Linked DNA regions of Homo sapiens: region 2 is linked to region 1. The links come from fine-mapping of genetic effects on gene expression. A gene starts in region 1. The other region holds a variant in brackets. All regions are shown on one strand. Distances are from middle to middle. Region 1 holds the start of RO60 (Ro60, Y RNA binding protein). Region 2 overlaps CDC73 (cell division cycle 73).

What was found.
Region 2: its variant is fine-mapped to the expression of RO60 in whole blood (INTERVAL, PIP above 0.99).

What each region holds. Positions count from the first base shown.
Region 1 is chr1:193,055,766-193,066,808 of GRCh38, reverse strand. RO60 (Ro60, Y RNA binding protein) reads right to left here and starts at 7,197. Exons shown (of 9, transcript NM_001173524.2): 1 at 7,033-7,197. UCHL5 (ubiquitin C-terminal hydrolase L5) reads left to right here and starts at 7,449. Exons shown (of 11, transcript NM_001199261.3): 1 at 7,449-7,624. The coding sequence starts at 7,549. It also overlaps SCARNA18B. RefSeq lists enhancers at 6,298-7,030, 7,098-7,627, 7,031-7,763, 7,788-8,097.
Region 2 is chr1:193,228,871-193,239,913 of GRCh38, reverse strand. CDC73 (cell division cycle 73) reads right to left here. Exons shown (of 17, transcript NM_024529.5): 14 at 6,760-6,921; 15 at 3,558-3,658. Among named protein-coding and RNA genes, the nearest start is that of B3GALT2, 48 kb to the right of the region's middle. The variant TGTGTGTGTGTGA/A (reference allele first, on the strand shown) is at 5,727.

The DNA of each region.
Region 1 (11,043 bases):
AGCCATAAAGACATGTTGACAGATACGGTCATAACTTAAAGAGGAACACAAGATAAAAGAAGTTTTGTTCTGAAGATCATGCTTACTTGAACATGTTTATATATTACAAGGAAGGCTAAGGATAGAATCTTGGTGAATATTAACCATTAAAAGCTAATGAGAGAAAGGCCTTTTAAAGAGAGACGGAAAAGGAGGTGCACAGAGTTGAAGAAAACCGACAGAGAATAGTATCATGGACTACAAGGAAGAGAACTTCAAGGAGTGAATGGTTGGTAATTTCAAATGGTCAGAGGAAAAGTAAATAAAAGGCTAGAAAATGACCACTGGGTTTAGCAAGTAGGAGTGACTAGTGAGAGCAACTGCAGTAGAGTGGTATAAGAAGTAGCTTGATTACAGTGAGATCAGGAGAATATGCAGTGAGGAAGAAACTTCACAGCTAGACTACTCTTTTGTAGACACATACTTATAAACTATGAAGGAAAGTAAAAGAGGATGGGACTTAGAGAAAAAATCTTTTTACCTTTTTCAATGGGAAGATGCTAACATTGAAAGATTCAATTTGGAGAGCTGAAGATACAGTAGAGAAGGGGGATAACTGAAGGAATTTCTTAAAGAAATGAGAATGAGCTTAGAGCATCCAGGTTGAGACTGGCCTACTGACAGCAAGAGATATTTCCTTTATCTTTTAAGGGTAAAGAGTATAGGTAAAGATAGATTTGAAGGAATGAGGGATAAGGAAACTGAAGACATTCCCCCCTGACAGGAGATGTAGAATGCCAAATGGTATGTGGAGAAGTTTGGTAGAGAGGGGAGGAATGAAAGACTGGGTCTCAGAGAGGGGAACACATAGTGGTGTAGGGATAAGTGCATGGGAGAATGAAGAGCCTCACATTTTGAATGTGACTGAGGGGGACAGTGATCTGAATTGTGTTCGGAATATTAGTGTCAATATTCCAAATAAGACGCTAGTATAAATTTGCTTATGTTAGTGGAAGCCTAGGTCTCAGGTGGCATCAGAGATGTAATGATCATATTAGTCATTAGGGACAAATTCATAGTTACTGAATACAGCATAGGTTGAAACTCCTGTTGCAGTGGATGCCTGTTCTCCTATTTATTATTATCCTCTTTTCAAATTTGGCTTTTATCTCTACCTTTCGATCCAAAACACTTTAAGAAGACTAACATGCTTCTCAAAGACTGATACCTTAATTGCCAATTCCAGTAGACAATGTTATGTTTTTCTGATCTTTACATTACATAGACTTTGCTAGTCTCTCCCTCAGCTTTCATAAAAACAGGCTCTGGTTGCACTTCAACCTGTCTACTTCTGCTTATTAGTTTTATTTGTTAGATGAGTAACACTGAAATGACATCTAATATCAGATAATTCTACTAAACTTGCTTTCCTGCACCAAGGCCCAAGTGGTGGGATTTAAAAGGTCCCAAACCAAACCTCAAAATTCCCTCTCCCCTCAAATTCTTTTCCTTGTATTATTCATTGTGACCACATGTAGCTACATTATTGGTTCCCTTGAAAGTAGAAACCAAATCTTATCATTTTTGTCTCCTCTTTTGTATTGCTTTTATGTAATTAGCAATACATACTTAAAGCCAAATATCATTAAAGTTGACTTTCTGAACCATTTGCCAAATAATTATGCACAATTGGTTTCTCTTTCCCATAACACATTTTGAGAATAAAAGCCTCAATATTTATAATGCAAAATATAATACAAGTCTTTAAGATAAATTCTGTAATCAGAATGATAAATGTACTATATGCAGGTAGTGAAAAATATAATCAAGAAAAAATAAAGTTCTAAAGAAAAGTAATGAATACTGAGTAAAAATGTCATCTAAGAACAAAATTTCTGTTTTTCTAACATATTTAATATTAGGTATTCAGGTACTTCTCTAGAGCAAGCAGCAAAATGAACTTTTAAATCTATGAAGGATGTCTAAGAGGTAATCTCTAAGTATAATCCTTATAATCCCTATTAGAAGAAATAAAGTTACTTATTCATGGACTCTTCCTTTTGCATGTTATGATATAAATGACAACCCTGAGGACATACCCTTTCAGTATTTCTGCAGCAGAAACTGCTCAGGTTTTCCTATGCTTCTGTGACTGTACTTTCCAGAGTGCAACATAAAACAGTGGAACAGATAACATTATTAGCAGCCAGGGCACCTTCCTACTTGATTATATAAATTTACCAGGGTCATATTCATATTTTAAAAGACAGAAAACAGAATAACATGTCCCAAGTTACTCTCCTTCTTGTCACTGAGTGTGATACACACATAAACTCAAAATTCGGCAAAGTGATGTGATACTGTGGCATCTTATAAGAGAGAGTACCTGGTCTTTGGACATAATACCCAGCAGAAAGTTTCAAAAACCCGTGGTATTTCCTGAGAAATAGGAGTGTCTTTGTTACATTAATGAGGCAACATGGGCCCCTAGGTAGCTTCAGGATGGGGGCTAATCACTAGAAAGACCAACTATATGTTTAGAGGAATAAACTGGTCAGGCCAACCTTCCATGAAAGGAGGAGGACTTGAGATCAAGTTCAGCCATGTAGCTAATGATTTAATCAATCATGCCCATGTGATGAAACCTCATAAAAACTTTCTTCATCGATACTCAGTGGAGCATCCTTGGTGAACAAAAACTGATGTGCTGGGAAGGTGATGTGCCCACATTTCACAAGGATGGGCATGGAAGTTCTGCATCCTTCCCTTGCCCCAGACCTTGCCATATGTGTCTACTTCCTGTTTGGCTGTTCCTGAGTTGTATCCCACATTTCACAAGGATGGCATGGAAGTTCTGCATCCTTCCCTTGCCCCAGACCTTGCCATATGTGTCTACTTCTTGTTTGGCTGTTCCTGAGTTGTATCCCTTATAATAAAACTGTAATTGCAAGTAGAGCACTTTCAGTGAGTTATGTGAGTCATTCTAGTGAACTATCAGCCTTGAGGGGATTATGGGAAGTCTTGAATTTGTAGTCCGCAGGGCAGAAGTGTGAGTAGCCTGGGGACCCCATTTACAGCTGGTGTCCAAATTAATGGCATTCTTAGTGGGGACCTTGTCCTTTAATTTGTGGGATCTGATGCCAACCCTGGGCAGCTAGTGCCAGAACTAAACGGAAGTGGGGGACACCCAGCTGATGCTACAGAATTAGTGTTGGAACGCAGACACCAAAGGCAAAAGTGACAAAATAAAAAAATAAACTGGACTTTATCAAAATTTAAAACTTGTATTTCCAAGGACACCATCAAGAAAGTGAAAAGACAACCCAAGAAAAAGGAAAATATTTGCAAATCATACATACAATAAGTGACTTGTATCTAGAATATATTAAGAACACTTACAACTTAATAATAAAATGATAAATAACCCAAGTAAAAATAGGCAAAAGATGTGAATATTACTCCAAAGACACACAAATGGGTAAAGAATCTGAAAAGGTGTTTTTCCAAAGAAGATTATCAAATGGCCAGTAAACACATAAAAAGATGACGAACATCATTAGTCATCAGGGAAATGCAAATCAAAACCACAATAAGATACCACTTCACATCCACTAGGACAGCTATAATCAAAACAATAATATTAAGTGTTGGTGAGGATTTAGAGAAAATGAAACGCTCATATACTGCTGGTGGGAATGTAAAATCATACAGCCACTTTGGAAAACAGTCTGGCAGTTTCTCAAAAGGTTAAATATAGTTAGCATATGACCGAGGAATTCTACCACACACCTAAGAAAAATGAATACATGTATCTAAACCAAAAGTTGTATCCAGATGTTTTTATCAACATTACTCATAACGGTCAAAAAGGAGAAGCAACCCAAATGTCCATCAACTGATGAAGGGATGAAAAAAATATGGTATATCCATACAATGGACTATTATTAGACAATAAAAAGGGATGAAGTAGTGATACATGACACAATGTAAACAAACCTTGAAAACATTATGCCAAGTCAAAGAAGCCAGTCACAAAAGGCCACATATTGTATTACAATTCCATTTATATGAATTTTCCAGAGTAGGTAAATTCATAGAAATAAAAAGTACATTAGTCTAAGGTTGTCAGAGGCTGTCGGAGTGGGGGAACACTGGGAAGTGACTGCTAATGGGTAGGGGATTTCTTTTTGGGTGATGAAAATGTTCAGAAATTAGTGGTGATGACTGCACAACTCCGTGAATATACTAGAACCCAATGCACTGGATACTTCAAAATAGTGAACTTCATGATATGTGAATTATATTCTAAAAATCTATTATTAAAAATACAAACATAAACTAGCCAGGTAAAATATATTTGGAAAGTTATTTAAATAAACAAGCACTTAACTCTGCTATTATCTATATCAGAATGGAGAGCACCAATACAATTGATTACACAAAAATTATATTTAGCCCTACAATTTTTATATTTGACTTTTAAAAGCAATTTGAGATACCCACAAGACATATACAGCAACTTAATTTCTTCTTTCTCCAACTGCCATCATCTCCTGCCTCAAAGCTTAAGCTCCATTATCAGTGGTTTAGAAGGCAATTGGGCAGTGAGTGAGGTCAGAACCTGGTCATCAGTTAATCCATTCCTGGATAATCAAGTGTTGTAAATCCAGATTAACAACAAAAAGATATAGTTAATTCTTTGGATGGGCCTGACCTATCTATCTAGTGCTCTTAAAACACACCATACAACTAATGTTGTATTAAATCTCTATAAATTAAGTTCTTGAGAAGTTAAATATTACAATACTATAATATTAAAAGCATGGACACTTTTTTTTTTTTTTTTGAGACAGACTCTCACTCTGTCACCCAGGCTGGAGTGTAGTGGCGCGATCTCCACTCACTGTAACCTCCGCCCTCCGAGTTCAAGCGATTCTCCTGCCTCAGCCTCCTGAGTAGCTGGGATTACAGGCGCCTGCCACCGCACCCGGCTAATTTTTTGTATGTTTAGTAGAGACGGGGTTTCACCATGTTGGCCAGGCTGGTCTTGAACTCCTGACCTCGTGATCCACCCGCCTGGGCCTCCCAAAGTGCTGGGATTACAGGCGTGAGCCACGGTGCCCGGCCAAGCATGGCCGCATATTAAATTGGTTGTGGATATTTTATACAATGTCCATTTCTCTACTTTTAAATTTAATTTAGAATGCAAAATCAGGAAATGCTAGTAACACACATTATATAATAGCACTTGTTTCACAATCATCAGAACTACAGCATATACAGTATCTTTTATCAGTACTAATGTGTTATTTCCAAGGAATCCTACATTTTTCTTGAATTTACACATCTCAATATCTTCCAAAGTCTCTTTATAATTTATTTGAAAATGCTGCCTTTCATCTCAAGAAGTCAAACACATTTGCAGATTATTCCTTTTTAAATGAAGTCAAAGCTGACATATCTATGAGAGTGCATGACAAATGTAAAGAAACAACAATAGAAAATTGGGCCCATGATAGAGGTTTGTTTACCCATGATACAGGTATCTGAATCCACTGATCAATGTGATGCTATAAAAACTGATGAGGAAGGAACTGTGGCAAAAATGACAGCATGCTAGTCTGAGGGGAGCTGCCAACTGGTTGCCACGTGGTATGGAACTAGTAGTTGCCAGATCTCATTTTTCTCAAAGACCCAGAAATCTGGCTTTTTATGTAAACTCTCAGGATTAAACGTTAACATAATGAAAGGCATCTTAACCCCCTTCTCTGCTTACTTCTAGATTGTGCCAAAGGCTAAATTTTCAGTTTGGTCTTTCTACAATAGGTACCATGTTAATTAAGTTGGGTATCAAGTACATTTTAGTTTTGATGTATTTTGCACAGAAAACATTTTCAAGTTCATAGCAATATTACAGATTAAAAAAAATACCACAAACTACTTTGGGCTCTGATGCCAATCATTCTGGACTCTGTGCCTCTTAAACTTTTCCAATAAAGTATCTCAAGGAAATATACTGTACAGAATCCTCCTAGTCTCCAAGTTGAGGGCAGAGTTTCCGGAGATAAACTTCAAGAAAGTTACAAAAAAAATTTTTTTTAAACCAACACTTCATACAAATTTTGGCTTCTACCCCATAGCGTACTCAGGCTCCTTTTAATACAAAAGCTGCTCTGTTGCTTCCCTCAATAAAATTTACCACGTTTATTTCATGGCTTCACATAATCTGTAGCACAAGGCTCCCTAACTCCAGGGCACAAGTCACCTATTTGAGAAGGAAGGAGTCAGAGTTTTACCCACTAAAACATTTTTTTTTTCTGGAAGCCAAAGGTCTTTCTTGGAATATGTAGCTTTTAAGGAGTAAATATACACTTAACGACTTCAATATACTCTTAAAAACTTTAATCTTAACACTATAGTATTCTATAAGAGCCTGCTGAATGAGGGCAATTTAGTAAATATTTAGTAAATATTTGGTTTAACTCATCATCCAGTTTTAGAACCATTCCAAATGTTTTTAGATTAATACACGACATTTGTTTTCAACCTAATTTTCCCTTGACGCACCGCATCCCCTTCCACTAGTCTAGCAGCCCCATGGACAAACCTTTCTCCTCTCCCTCGTTATTCCTCTGTGATAAATTCACCCTGTCTTCCCACAAAGATCCTTCTTCCAAAACCCAGATCCCGGGCGACGCCTCTCCGCGCAGAAGCCGCGGGAGAAGGAGGAGAAAGAGGAGGAGTAAAGCAGGCCCTCTCGACGTCGGCCTGTGGGGAGCGATGCCGACAAGCAGGAGCGGTCCCGGCTTCGGAAAGGGCCCACCCTGAGGAATGGTCCGGCCGGGCCTAGCGAGGATGTCCCTACCGCGATGCTGGTTCCGTTACCCAGGGTGGACAGGCGCGGAAGCGGGACGGGGAAGAGCGATAGTTTCGCGGCGTTTGCCCAGCCTCAACCCCTGGGATGCGGGTGAGAGACATGGAGGACTGGTCAGAATTTGCGCGTCCCTGGGGCCGCACAAAAGGCTCCCAGCCGGCCTCCCGCAATGTCCTCACCTGTACCTGGCAGCCGACCCCCTGGATCCGCAGCGCCGCCAGGAGAAGTCCTGCGCAGCGCTGGGAAACGACAAAAGAAGGCAGCCTGACGGGCAGCGACAGCCACAGCAACAGCAACAGCCCCACTGCCGCCGGGGATTCCAGGTTCGGTTCCCGGGAACGAGTCCTGCCCCTCTTCTTTTGCCCCGCCTCCGCCCCAGAGGGGCGAGGATCCCGGATGTTGCCTCCTCGGCGCTGTGAATCACCGCCCTTTCTTCTCAGGCCCCAGCCCTTCCGAATCCGCTACGGGTGCTGCAAGGCCTGGGAAGAGTTTCGATGTCTCTAGGGTGGCTAGAGCGTCCTCCCGCGCTCAGTCGCGCTGCAGGTGACGGCGCCCGGAGGCTGTCGGGAAGTAGGCGGGGTGACGTGTGGTTGACGAGCTCGGCGGCGGGTTTGCTGAGATCTGTGGCCGGCGGCAGCTGGTGCGGGGGGCAGCTGAGAGCGAGAGGTGGATCGGGGCGGTGTGTGGCCAGGGCCATGACGGGCAATGCCGGGGAGTGGTGCCTCATGGAAAGCGACCCCGGGGTCTTCACCGAGCTCATTAAAGGATTCGGTGAGAACCAAGGGGACCGTCCTGGGCCTGGGGTCACGGGAGGAGGCCCAAGCTGGGCATGGAGTGGTTCCCTGCGGCCACCGCCGCCCCGCGTCTGGAGAGGTGACTTCAGGAACCTGGAGTCCGGGTGGGGGAAATGTAGATGTTCTGCCCTCTCCTCAGCTCGAGACAGTCGCGTTTCCACAGTAATTTGTAGAGCCACACCACGAGGGCAAGGATCGTGTCAGTCTTGTGCCTGCTGCATCCTCAGGACCTGGCACCCAAATCCTGTAATTGACTTGAGGGCCCTCGCTCCCCAAGCTCTTAAGCACGTATTGCCCTTTGCACTGCCCCTTCTCTGCGGCGCGCACCTTATCCCGGGCTGGTGAGGTCAAGTGCATTGCTCAGGCCATTAGTCCTGCAGAAGCCACCCTAGGGTGCGCCTTCTCAAGGGTGAGGTGTCTGCGGCTCAAGCCGCCCAGGAACTCGAGATTCTGGTTATTCAAAGCAGAACGCCTTGAATGTGTGAATAGCTCTTCGGGACGTCCACACACGCTGACTGCGTGGGCCTGAAAGGCCACTTCACTGGTTCCGCTCTCTGCTCATTTCTGGCTTCCGGTGAAGTGAGTTTTCTTGAGCTAGTGTTCTAGACTAGAGGCCACATGCTTTCCTCACAGTTTCTCTCTGGCTGTATTTAGTGCCTTTCGTCCTAAATAATCAACACATTTTACTTTTTATCCTTCCCTATTTATCTTGTTCTTAGTCTCTTCTTTGGACAGTACGTTTTTATCTATTTCCCAAGTGTTATTGACTCTACGATGTTAAAACTTTTACGCGGGATTAACAATTAAACGTTGATGTAGATATTGCCTGTTGTACACAGCTTAATATTTGGAATGTCATTTATCAAGCATATGTTGTTCATCTTCTATATCTCAGGCACAGTGGTAAGGATTGGGAAATTTTCTTTTTTTTGTTTGAGACAGAGTCTCGCTCTGTCGCCCAGGCTGGAGTGCAGTGGCGCGATCTTGGCCCACTGCAACCTCCATCTCTCGGGGTCAAGCGAATCTCCTACTTCAGCCTCCCGAGTAGCTGGGATTACAGGCACGCGCCACCATGCCCGGCTAATTTTTTTTTTTTTAGTAGAGACAGGGTTTCACCATGCTGGCCAGGCTGGTCTCAGCTCCTGACCTCGTGATCCACCCGCCTCGGCCTCCCAAAGTGTTGGGATTACAGGCGTGAGCCACGCGCCCACCCAAGGATTGGGAAATTTTCATGTGAATAAACCATAACTGCTGTTTCGAATAATTGACAGTCAAACTATAATATGGTGTGTTAATTGCTATGTTAGAGTATATACAAAATGTTAAAAGTACACAGGTCATGGAGGAGCACAGCCAGAAGGAAAAGCATAAACAGTAGTGATGTTAAAGTATATGGGTTAGCCAACAGCTAGCAAAGTGACTAGAACATAATATAGCAGACTGGAGGAATATTTATTTGGATCTGAAACTGAAAAGATAAACTGAGGACAGATTGTATGCCATGTTGTATAGTTTGAATTGCCCTGTAGTGACTGGGGATTTACCTATCAAATATATTTTAATGCTGAAATGACATTATTTTCATAATTAAGGTTTATTGTGCTTTTAAGTGTGCAGGGCAGGTTGGAATAAAGTGAGAGAAGCTAGACATCTCTTAAAATGGTTGGAGTCCGAGATGATTGGCTAAACTAGTGGGTTAGGAAGGAGGAGTTAGATTCAATAAGTTTGCTATATTTAAATCAACAGTTGCATGTGGTAATGTCTGCTCTTCATTCCTTTGGGAGCAGAAATACATCCATAACACGCTAAATTAAAAAAGGAGTTCTCAGGGCTGCCAACCTTACAGTAGAGGTTGAGTGGTAGTATATTACTCCTACATAAGAGAAAAAAAATCAAAAGGACTGCTTACTAAAAGTTGGGGAAAAAAAGAGGCAAAAATAACTCCCTGGTTTCTAGCCTGGGTGGCTGGTGAAACACTCTTACAAGTGAAGAGCAGGCTTGATGGACAAGAAAATGGATTCAGATTTGGACAGACACTGAGTTTGACATGTCTGCAGATTTAGTCATATATTTTACGTTCAAAACCTTAACAATATGTTAAAGTTAACTTTCAGAAATGTTGTACTAGGTAAGTTTGTTTTTACTCCTTCAATTTCATATGTGCAGAAAACTTGGAGATCATGCATGAAAGAATGATATATAAATTCATCTTCTGTACATGCACATATGAAAAATCAGCAGCTATTAATAAATTGGCTTCATTAGCAGAAGAACCTGCAAACAATTAAATGGTGGTAGTTTATGTCACCATCAGATGCTTCAAAGAGAAAATCAGTTTATTCCAATTATTTCCATCATTTTCATTTTTTCACCCAATTTATAGATTTAAAAAAGCTTTTGGCTGTTGATTCTTTCAAAAATGAAATACCTGTATTGTGAATGCTGTCATAAATTCATTTCAAAAGTTCCATCATTGAAAGGGAAATGAATTGTAGATGCAGTAAGTATGTAAATACAGATTTTGGTAGAATGTAGTATCATTAAATTAAGAAACTGGTGGAGCAGAACTGTACTTTTAATTGGTATGGTCCACACATAATACATATGTGTGCCAAAACAAACCGTGATGGTCTGTTAATAAAAACAGAAGCTGTAAATATTTGGTTACAGCCAAGATAGAGTAATGGGGACTAGATTCATTTTTCTTACAACAAACCAGTGACCCCAGCTTTCATTTTAATAAGAAAGTAGAAAACCTAGAGTAAGCAGATGACAGGAAATAATAAAGATCAGAGTTGAAATTAGTGGAACAGAAAAGAGAAAAAAATGGAGAAAATACATGAAACTAAGAGCTGTTTTTTGGGGAAGATCAATAGAATCACTCTAGCCAGACTGATCAGAAAAAAAGAGATGTTCCTGTATTTCAGTATAGGAATGAGAGAGGTGACATCACTAAAATTTTACAGATATTAAAAATAATATTATGAACAACTATGCCAATAAATTTGACAATTTAGATGAAATGTACAAATTCCTTTAAAGACACAAATTACCAAAGTTCACTTAAGAAATAGATAACCAGTATATGCCCTGTGTTTATTAAAGAAATGGAAATTGTAGTTTAAAATTTTCCCACAAAGAAATTCTAGCCAAGGTGGCTTCACTGGTAAATTCTATCAAATATTTAATATTATAAATAATACCAATTCTACATAAACTCTTCCAAAATAATTGGAGAGGAAGGAATGCTTCCCAACTCATTTTCTGAGGACCAGCATTATCCTGACACCAAACCAGACAAAGATATTACTAGAAAAGAAAATTGCAGACCTATATCCATCATTAACTTAAATGTACAAATTTTAAACCATTTTACCAAATTGAATTTAGTAATTC
Region 2 (11,043 bases), 170 kb before region 1:
TTAAGTTCTGGGGTACATGTGCAGGACTGTTACACAGTTAAACATATGCCATGGTGAACAGCTGCACAAAGGAATAAATTCTAATGTTCAAAAGCAGAGTAGGAGGCTATACTTAACAATAATGTATTATATATTTCTAAACAGCTAGAAGAGATGACTTGAAATGTTCCCAAAACACAGAAATAATAAACACTCAAGGTGATACATACCCTAAATACTGACTTGATCATTACACATTCTATCCATGTAACAAAATATCACATGTACACCATAAATATGTACAAATATTATGTATCAACAAAAAAAAATTTTAAATGTCAACCAACAAATAAATATAGCCACGTCAAGTATAACATATCTAAAATATATCCAGATATCAGCTTAAACTTATTCTAAATTTGTAAAGATTTTATTTGGCAATTTTATGCAAATCAGTATTTAATCTTCTCTCAAACGATGTATTTCATTATAATTATGCAACATTAACAAAATATAATATAATTTTCTATCAAGGCCCACAGAGATGCTCCCAAATACCCTCAGTTTTCCCCCAATGCTGTACAGTGTAATCTGATGGAGAAAACAACTGGAAGCCAGAAGAGTGAAAGCAGAAAGATCAACCAAGAGCTAAGATAATATACTCCCAAGTTTCTGGCTTAGGCAAATTACTGAAAAGGACTAACAGATAATAAGAAATAGTTTGAGGAATAAGGAAGAGAGTAAAACCATCAATTCCATTTGGAAAAGGTTGAGTTTGATGTACCAATGAGATATCACAGAGAAGTTATCTCATAGTGAGTGAGGTATATAGGTCCAGAATATTGAGCTAAAGACATAATTTTTAGAATGAGGGAATATAAATGGTAATTGAAAGCTATGAGATCTTCTTGAGAGGGTATTTAAAATTATGGGAGAAGAGAAATAGGGACATAACCATATACATTTGATCCTTGAACAATACAAGTTCCAATTGAGTGGGTTCATTTATACATGGATTTTCTTCCGCCTCTGCCACCTGGGACAGCAAGACTAACCCTTCCTCCTCCTCAACCTACTCAATGTGAAGACAATGAAGATGAAGACCTTTATGATAACCCACTCCCACTTAATGAACAGTAAATGTATTTTCTCTTTCTTACGATTTTCTTAACGTTTTCTTTTTCTCTACTTACTTTATCATAAGAATACAGTATACAATGCTAACATGTAAAATATTTGTTAATCGACTGTTTATGTTATCAGTTAAGGCATCCAGTCAACAGTAGGCTATTAGTATGTATGTTTGGGATAAGTCAAAAGTTATATGGGAGTTTTCAACTGCATGATATTGAAGGGTCCATTCCAGTTGATAACCAGAGGAAAAGTAGCAAGAAAATCTGAGACAAAGTGTAACAGGTACTTGGAAAGTAACTTAAAAAGGAGTAAAGGAGTCAACAGAATCAAATTCTGGTAAGTTAACAGTATCCAATATTTGAGTCACTGGTGACTTCAGTGAAAACAGCTTTAGTACAGAGCAAGAGCCAGACTACAGGGGATATGAACAGAAAATGAGTTGGTAGAGACAATTCTTTCCAAAGTGCAGCTATAAAAGGAAAAAGAAGAAGCTAGGGGAAAGGGTGAGGTCAACGGTAAGGGTTTTGTTTTGTTGTTTAAGAAGGAAGGGGAAAGAGTATTCTTAAACGCTGAGAAAAAGGAGTCAGTATAGAAGGAACAGGTGAAAGAGAAAGAACAGTTCATGAAAGTAAATCACTGATGATTGTTAAAATTCTCTAAATTCTTATCTAAATTTCAGAAGACTAAATTTGAACAAAAATTAAAACTTTATATTCTTAATGAATTTCATACAACATTTATATCTTAAAGACATCCTAATCATTTTTTGTTGAAACATTATTCAACAAGGCAAGCAAGTAGGTAAAAAAGAATTCTCGTTGACATTTTACTTTCATTAAAATTCTCATTCCCTTTTTATTTAACTTCCCATTTACCAACTCTGTGTATCACTCAAGTTTCAGAAATAACATAAAAAGCTATCATAATGTCAGTTGCCGGGCCCAACCTGCAGATCCTGGCCGAACGACAGAAGGAAAATGTACGCAGACACAGGTTTTTTCCTGGACGTGCAGCTAGGGGACTGGGCCACTCACAGACGTCGAGGAGGATGCCGTAAAGAGTCACAGCAGCCGCAGCCCTGACATGCCAGCATCTTTTTATTACAGATTTAATGACAAAGGCTTTGAGTCAACACACTTGTGGGTAATTAACGTGGTCACCACTGCCTCGCCACCCCACCACACCACCTCCAACCCGCCACCCCTACCTCCCGACTCCTGCAGTTGATTAAAGGCCACGTTCTGGGAGGCCTAAGTAAACTAACTTATCTAGATCAATTTCTTTACATCCCCAGGTTATCTAATCTTTGCTATCAGGCTCCGGGTAAGAGAATCCAGTTGACTTCAGCCAAATTATCTTTCAAAGCTTTTGCAAAACCTCCCAGCCTTCCAAGAAGGTTTGCATCTTTTTTCTATTTCTCCCACCACCCTGACCAATTTCCTACAGTCAGTAATATTAGAATTCTTTTTTTTTAAATGAATGAAGGTAACAGAAGAACAAATGACTAAAACTTTCAAGCTTGGGTATTTTCTAAGGAAAAATGATGGTACCACTAACAAAAACTGGGGCTGCTAAAAACATAAGACATTTCAGAATTGTACAATTGACATTCATAATAACTAATGGGTGGATCACAAGGTCAGGAGATTGAGACCTTGTGAAGCCCCCTCTCTACTAAAAATACAAAAAATTAGCCGGGCGTGGTGGCGGACGCCTGTAGTCCTAGCTACTCAGGAGGTTGAGGCAGGAGAATGGCGTGAACCCGGGAGGCGGAGCTTGCAGTGAGCTGAGATCGCGCCACTGCAATCCAGCCTGGGCGACAGAGCCAGACTCCGTCTAAAAAAAAAAAAAAAAACTGGCATCAATTTTAATCAAAATCTATGGACATGCAACAGTATTAATTTTTTTTTCCTATTGAGACGGAGTTTCGCTCTTGTTGCCCAGGCTGAAGTGATCTCGGCTCACTGCAACCTCCGCCTCCCGGGTTCAAGCGATTCTCCTGCCTCAGTCTCCCGAGTAGCTGGGATTACAGGTGTGCACCACCATGCCCGGCTAATTTTGTATTTTTAGTAGAGACAGGGTTTCATCATGTTGGTTAGGCTGGTCTCGACCTCCCGACCTAAGGTGATCCACCTGCCTCAGCTTCCCAAAGTGCTGAGATTACAGGTGTGAGCCACTGTGTCTGGCCAATGATTTTTAAGTGATCTAAAAATAATTAGTAATGTTGTGGGATAGGCAATATTCACTTTCAGATATACCTACACAGAAAGTATTAATATACAAAGCTTTTAAAAATATGTCACAGATGCTTAAACATTAACATATGTTACTTAACAGCAATCTTTTGACATACACATCATATGCGCAGAACTATATGACTGTTTCTCTTAAATAAAGTGAGAACATTTCTATACTGGATACAGTAAATACAAAGAGAATCTTACTTTTAGCAAATATATCAACTGGTGATCCATCAGGCAAAAGCCATGGCCAACCTTTGAACTGCCATGCAGGACCCTGCACAAAAACGGCTACAACGCGGTCCCTACAAGTAGAAAAGTGGGTGGGGGGAGGTAGGGGACAGACGGAGATTATTTCAAACTTGAGCTTTAGCTACTATAAATCCCTTAGGCAACAGTCCCATAAACATTCATGTGAAAGAGTCTTATCAATCCTTCCATGAAGCAAATACAGTACTTACCACCTTTTCAATATGATATTGCCATTAGAATGTATTAATGATTGCTATACTTCTCATGTATCTGGTTTTTACACCTAAGTCTTTTAAACATAATTCAATGGACAATACTCGTATGTAATCTTGTTTGCCCTTTCTGTTCCCTTCTGTTAATTAGAGTAGTGGCCCACTTTTCCAATGTAATAGGGAATAGTGGTTGATAACTATTAATCAAAAAAGTTGTTTAAAAAATCATTTAAAATTCAAACACATCTTAAATATTTTACTTTAACTAAAAATATTACATTATAGGAACTCATCAACCATTTTACGAGGTCCCAGGGCCTTATCTGAGTTCTTGTGATTACTTAGGAAGTAATCTGAGTATAGAAACCATTTAGACTTTTATAATTTTTGCAATTGTTTTACAACTGTTTCATTCACCCTAAATTTATAAGTAGTTTTTAAAGCATTTTTTTCCCAACCAAACAACCCAGTTTTCCTAGAAAGAACAAACTTCTTTGTAGGCCCTCAAATTTCATTATTTTATAAAATACTTAATTGAATTGAGAAATTATAAGAAGTACTGCCATAAACAGTTAAAGCCAATAACTAAAGCGGTGGGAACAAAACAACAACATTATCAGCAATAATGGTTAACATTAGTAGCATTTATTGAGCATTTACTATGTGTCAAGTGCCATTTTAAGGACTTTATGCGTTACTTATGATGTTAACACATTTAATCTTCAAAACAATCCAATGACCTCACTGTATTAGAAACCTCATTGTATAAATGAAGAAACAAGTGCATGGGCATGTTGGAGAAGAGAAAGGAGGAAGGTAGAAGTACAGAGAAAAGGAAGAAGAGAAGAAGAGAAGGAGGAGAATAAATTACTATGCTAGGGCACTGGGTATGCTACTGTTCCTATTTAAGGGCAGATAAATCATGAGAATAGCCATCTCAGTATTATTATGAAAATAGTTTTCACCTTGCAACTCTGTGAAAGGGTCTTAGGAATGACCTGAGGTCTGCAGACCACACTTTGATAACCACTGCAATTAATGACGACTGCAGACATACAAAAAAACATTAAACCAGGGTTACCTTCTATTCAAGCAAAGACCTACAACTATTAAAAACTGCCAGCTTAAAGTTCTCAACCTGCTCAAAATCTCCCTAAAACTTAAAGTATAGTAATAATAAAATAAAAAATTAAAAAAAATCTCTGAGACTAAAATTAAATCTTAAGTTAAAAAATTTCCCCTTTCATGGGATACATGCCTCAAACTGTCAAAATCATCTTTGGCAATGCAGCACACTATTAAATAATCTTTCAGTTTTATGATGTAACTTACAACAGTTGAAAGCCCAAGATGCCTGCCAAAGCAAAGGGAATTTGCTGGACAGAGGTCACTTATATTCTACTGGGTCTCATAGCATCAGCACGGAAGCAGAATAAAAATGTTACTCCCCATGAATTCTTGGAAGGACAATTAAAGGAAAAGGAAAATAAGGAAGTAGGGAAAATGCTGGAGGCTTCAATGGCTGGAGACCCTAACTAATACACACAAGCAGTATTTTACAGCATAGTGATGAGATTTGTATACACTGTATTATTTCTGCAAATACACTGCAAACATAAAATACAAGTGATATAACTTTCCTACTTGGTTTTAAGCTTGATATCTGAAATTCTCATCTTACTCATTTTCTATATTACTCAAAGTATCTATTAGGTACCAGAGAAGAATTATAATTTTAAATATATATATATATATTTATGTGTGTGTTTTAAATATATATATATTTTAAATTATATTATATATATAATATGTATATTATATATATTATAATTAAATTATATATATAAATAAATATATAAATTTTAAATATATATATGTGTGTGTGTGTGTGTGTGTGTGTGTGTGTGTG[TGTGTGTGTGTGA/A]GAGAGAGAGAGAGAGAGAGAGAGAATTATCCTACCAGTCTTGAGGCATAAGTTTAAGGGGCTGGTCTACTACTCTATAAGATACTGTGACACTAATTAATTGCAGTGCCCCCTGGTTGCAATTTTCTTAAGAAAATTTTTAATATTAATATTCTCAATGCCTTGACTTCTTAATGCCTGAAAACTAACAAGTACTTCAAAGGTAAATTCATCTAATGTGCCATGTGTTGCGTTCTCTGTATCACGGATATATACTCAACTTTTACTCCCGGTTAAAGAAATAAGGTAATTTGTGTGTCTAAATTTATAGGCACTTTATATTATAAACAGCTTAATATTTTGTTAAAGGACACTTAAATTCAATAAAAGTGTTAAACCATGATAAAAGAGCTATTCCTATTTTTATTACATTATTCCCTTACAATAAAATATGCCTTCATTTTTTTCTTACCAGAAAATTGAAATTCTCCAAACCAAAAATCTAAACATAGAATACCTTACATTAGCCTAATTTGCTGGGTTCTACAAGCTGATCCGGAACAAATGAACAAGTGGAAAGAATTTTTTACACTGGGTTTTCCAGAAGTTGGAATGTTTCTTCTTATAAGTAAAATCAAGTTTACTTATCCAAAATATAAAGTTATTGAGGAATTATTAGAATGTTAACATTATTGATGACCAAAGTAAATATACATCAACACACTTTTCAAAGACAGTTTCTATTTAGAACCCATGATAAAATTTGATAATTGCTCACATGAGAAAAAACAACCAACAATATACAGAAAACAAACGAATATTTAAAAAATATAGGCTGCCAGGTGCAGTGGCATGCACCTGTAGTCCTAGCTATTTGGGAGCCTGAGGCAGGAGGACTGACAGAGCCCAGGAGTTCAAGTTCTGCCTAGGCAACATAGTGAGACCCCATCTCTTAAAAAGCAACGTCATCAACGGCAATAACAACATTCATTCTCTTGGGTTCAACACCTGTGAAAAGATATATATATAGAGACTATCTTACCAGTCTTGAGGCATAAGTTTAAGGGGCTGGTCTACTACTCTATAAGGTACTGTAACACTAATTGCAGTGCCCCCTGGTTGCATCTGGTCTTTTCTTCTTTGTATTAGAGTTTCATTTTCTCGTTGACAACCTTGTTTCTTCTTTTCATCTGATGGGACAAATCTTTGAAAAAACAGAGATGAGAAAAAGTCAATGTATTCCACGTGATGAAAATGGGAAGATAAACTATAATTTGAAATATTTTTTTTTTTTGAGACAGAGTTTTTTCTTATTGCCCAGGCTAGAGTGCAGTGGTGCAATCTTGGCTCACTGCAACCTCCACCTTCTGGTTTCAAGCGATTCTCCTGCCTCAGCCTCCCAAGTTGCTGAGATTACAGGTGACCGCCACCACGCCCAGCTAATTTTTTTGTATTTTTAGTAGAGATGGGGTTTCACCACGTTGGTCAGGCTGGTCTCGAACTGCTGACCTTGTGATCCACCCGCCTCGGCCTCCCAAAGTGCTGAGATTACAGGCATGAGCCACCACGCCCGGTCTGAAATAATTTTTAAACATTAATTAGTTTTAAACTAAAGATGTTTGTTTTTAAATAAACCTGCTCTGCAAGTACAGATCATGGAGTGTATAGGTCTTTCCTCTGTATACCAAATAGAACTCAAGCTCACTCAGACCCTAAGTTGGGTGTGTGTGTGTGTGTGTATGTGTGTGTAACACCACACAATTTATATTCATTCAACTAGCACTTAGCATTTTCCACACTAATACTTAATTTCTCAAATTCTATTAGAGGAAAACTTCATGATAAAGAGGAATTTTATTAGAAATCAAAAGGTCATTTGAAATGAAAAAGTTGTTGTGGCTAGTAGGCTTCTTTACGACTTAGCCTATCCAGGAGCTTCATAAAACTTTTTTTTTTTTAAGATTTTATGCTTCAGCAAAATTACAAAAATACCATCAAACTTCAGAGTAGCCTTGAAAATTTTAAAGTATGAAAATTAAATCAGTGCATGCTGATAACCTGCTATTATTATCAACTAGTGGCATTTATCAACTTACTTATGTGGATCCATTCTCAAGACAGATATTCTTAAAAATAACTTAGCAATCTGGATAGCTATTACCACCTGTAAAATTTGCTAGTGTTCACAAAGTATTTTAAAAGTCTTATTTTCTAAATATATACATAATCCTAACAGTCCAATAACATATTTTATTAACTATGATCTAGTCTCTCCAATAAAATGGAGGGAATACAATCAATATATTGAGAGTATCATTCTGCTTCTAAAGTTTAAAAGAGATGAAAGGGTGAAAGGACCAAAAAGCACAGGAGAACTTGCACTAATTAGAGTTCTCTGAAAAACTTCAATTACACATATTGGATTCATCACATAATACTAATTTTATTGTCTAGAAAGTTTTTAGTTCATGGTGATAATGATGATACTGAACTTTGCTTCTGAGCTGATTGTTCTCACATCCATTTTACATTTGGTTAAAAAGTTAAGATTTCTATATCATTTAAAAATTTCCCCCAGATAATCATTTGCTTCCTATGGCATTTGGTTTATTTATTAATCAAGCTCACTTAGAAAATGCCAGACAGTACTAATACTTTGAATAATGAAACACATTATTTAGAAAATTTAATATGTGTGCATTGTTTGAAATTGCATTCTAATAAAAAGCCACAACAAAAATGTTTTAATAGTATGTGCAATACATTGTGCTATAAGTTTTATAATATACATAGTTGTACAAAACATAGTCCCTGCCCTCTTGAACTTATGTTCCACACACACAGAACAAAGGGATTCTACTGCCAAGAGAAATGCTTTGTTTTATCTCAGTCTATAACTACATGGGATTTAAACTGTTTTAAGTTGTTAAATATAAGACTGCATCTCCCTCTTTTCTGGCTTCTGAAATTTTAACATGGTGTTAAAGTTTAAATTTACTTGTACAAAATTACTTATAAACTTATAAACAAAATTACTTATAATCATATGACTAGAATGCAAAATACATACAAATGAGTGATCTATTACAATACCAAACTAATAAAAAGTCTATTATACACCTATTTCAACTTTTGCAGGTCTACACATTGGTTGATATGTTTTATAAAAGCTCAGAAACATTAACGTGGTTTTTACAATTAACCACCGTCCTAGAATTTTTAGATGCTGTAGCATGTTAATTTCTGATTATATCTACGTATTTTCTTAGAATTAGTCATCTCTATTAGCAATAAAAAAGGCTTTATTTCAAAACGCTTTTCAGCAAGGATCTCATTTGAAAACATAAGGATAGATCTTATGACCTCTTCCCTAAAGTTAAGTCTACTAAAAAGATTAGTATTCCACAGAGTCAATATAATTTTACCTGTTCACCCTACTGCAGTTCATCAAATCTAAGACACAATGATTGTGAGCTACACCATTATATTGTACCACTATGAAAGGAAAAAACTACTGCCAATTAAACTATGATATTCTACATAAATCACAGTCATCATCCCTCCAGAAAACTGGTTATTTCTTCTGGCTTGGGCTGCACTGCTGGGTGTGTGATAGGCAATTGTTTCATATGTATCTCAGGCAAAATAGGTTCATCTACTATTGCTATCTTCCATTTTTAGGTTCCATAAAGCTCCTGGTTGTTGCTTTGCAAAAAAAAAAAAAAAAAAAAAAAAAAAATACGGGATTAGGGCGAGGTGCAGTGGCTTATGCCTGTAATCCCAGCACTTTGGGGGGCCAAGGTGGGTGGATCATTTGAGGTCAGGGGTTCGAGACGTCTGGCCAACATGGTGAAATCCCGTCTCTACTAAATATACAAAAATTGGCTAGGTGTGGTGGCGTGCGCTTGTAATCCCAGCTACTCTGGAAGCTGAGGCAGGAAAATCACTTGATCTCAGAAGGCAGAGGTTGCAGCAAGCCGAGATCACACCACTGCCCTCCAGCCTGGGGGACAGAGTGAGACTCTGCCTCAGGAGAAAAAAAAAAAAAAAAAAGAATGGGAATGTCATTCCTCTAATGCGGAAGAATTCAAACATCAAATCTGCACTCCACTGCTTCATTTTAGTGTATTTTTGAATATACAACATTTTTATTGACATAAAATTTACATACAGTGAAATGCATAAATAGATGAGTTTTGAAGAACGTATACTAAGTATAAGCACCATTCCAATCAAGATAAAGAACATCTGTGTCAACCAGAAAGTTTCCTTATATACCTTTCAGTCAAATGCCATTCCCTTCCTAACAAGCAACCACTCTTCTGCTTTCCATTAGTTTTTCCTGTTTTGGGAATTTATATAGACACACTCATATACCAGATGTATTATTTTGTACCTGGCTTCTTTCATTCAATGTAATGTTTCTGATAATCATACCTGCTGTGGGATGTATCAGTAGTTCATTATTTTTTATTGTTAAGTAGAATTCTATTGTAAGAAAATACCATTCTCCTGCTAGTGGACATTTCGGTGTGTCTTAGTACGTTCAGGATACAGTAAGAGAAATAGCACAGACTGGGGTGGCTTGTAAACAACAGGAATTTCTTTATCACTGTTCTGGAGGCTACGAAGCCAAGACCAAGATATTGGCAAGTCTGGTGTCTAGTGAGGTCCCACTTCCTGGTTTGTAAACCGTATTATTGCTGCGTCCTCCTATCACAGAAGGAGCAAGGAAGCTCTCTGGGATCACTTTCATAAGGGTGCTTATCCTATTTGTGAGGGCAGAGCCCTTATGACCTAATTACTTCACAAATACCCTGGGGCATTAGTGACTAAGTTTCAACATATAAATTTTGTGGGACACAAATGTTCAGTATACAGCAGGGTAGTTTCAAGGTCTGGGTTCGTACAAGTAAAGCTAACATAAATAATTCCTGTATAAGTGTTTTTGTGAACACATGCTTTCATTTCTCTTATGTAAATACCTCCAAGTGAATCATGGGGTATGTATAACTTTATAAGAAACTGCCAGGAAGTTTTCCAAAGCAGTTGAACCATTTTATACTTCCACTAAAAATGTATGAGACTTCTAGTCTTTTGAATTTTAGTCTTTCTAATGGGTATGTGAAATAGTATCTCAACATCATTTTAATTTTTACTTCCTCAACAACTGATGATACTGAGAATTTTTTTCATGCGCTGATTGGCCATTTGTATACCTTGTTTTGTGGAGTGTCAACATCTCTTGCTTATTTTTAATAGGATTTTTAAAAATACTGACACACAGGATTCTAGATACAAATTTTCTGTTACAAATGTGCAATGA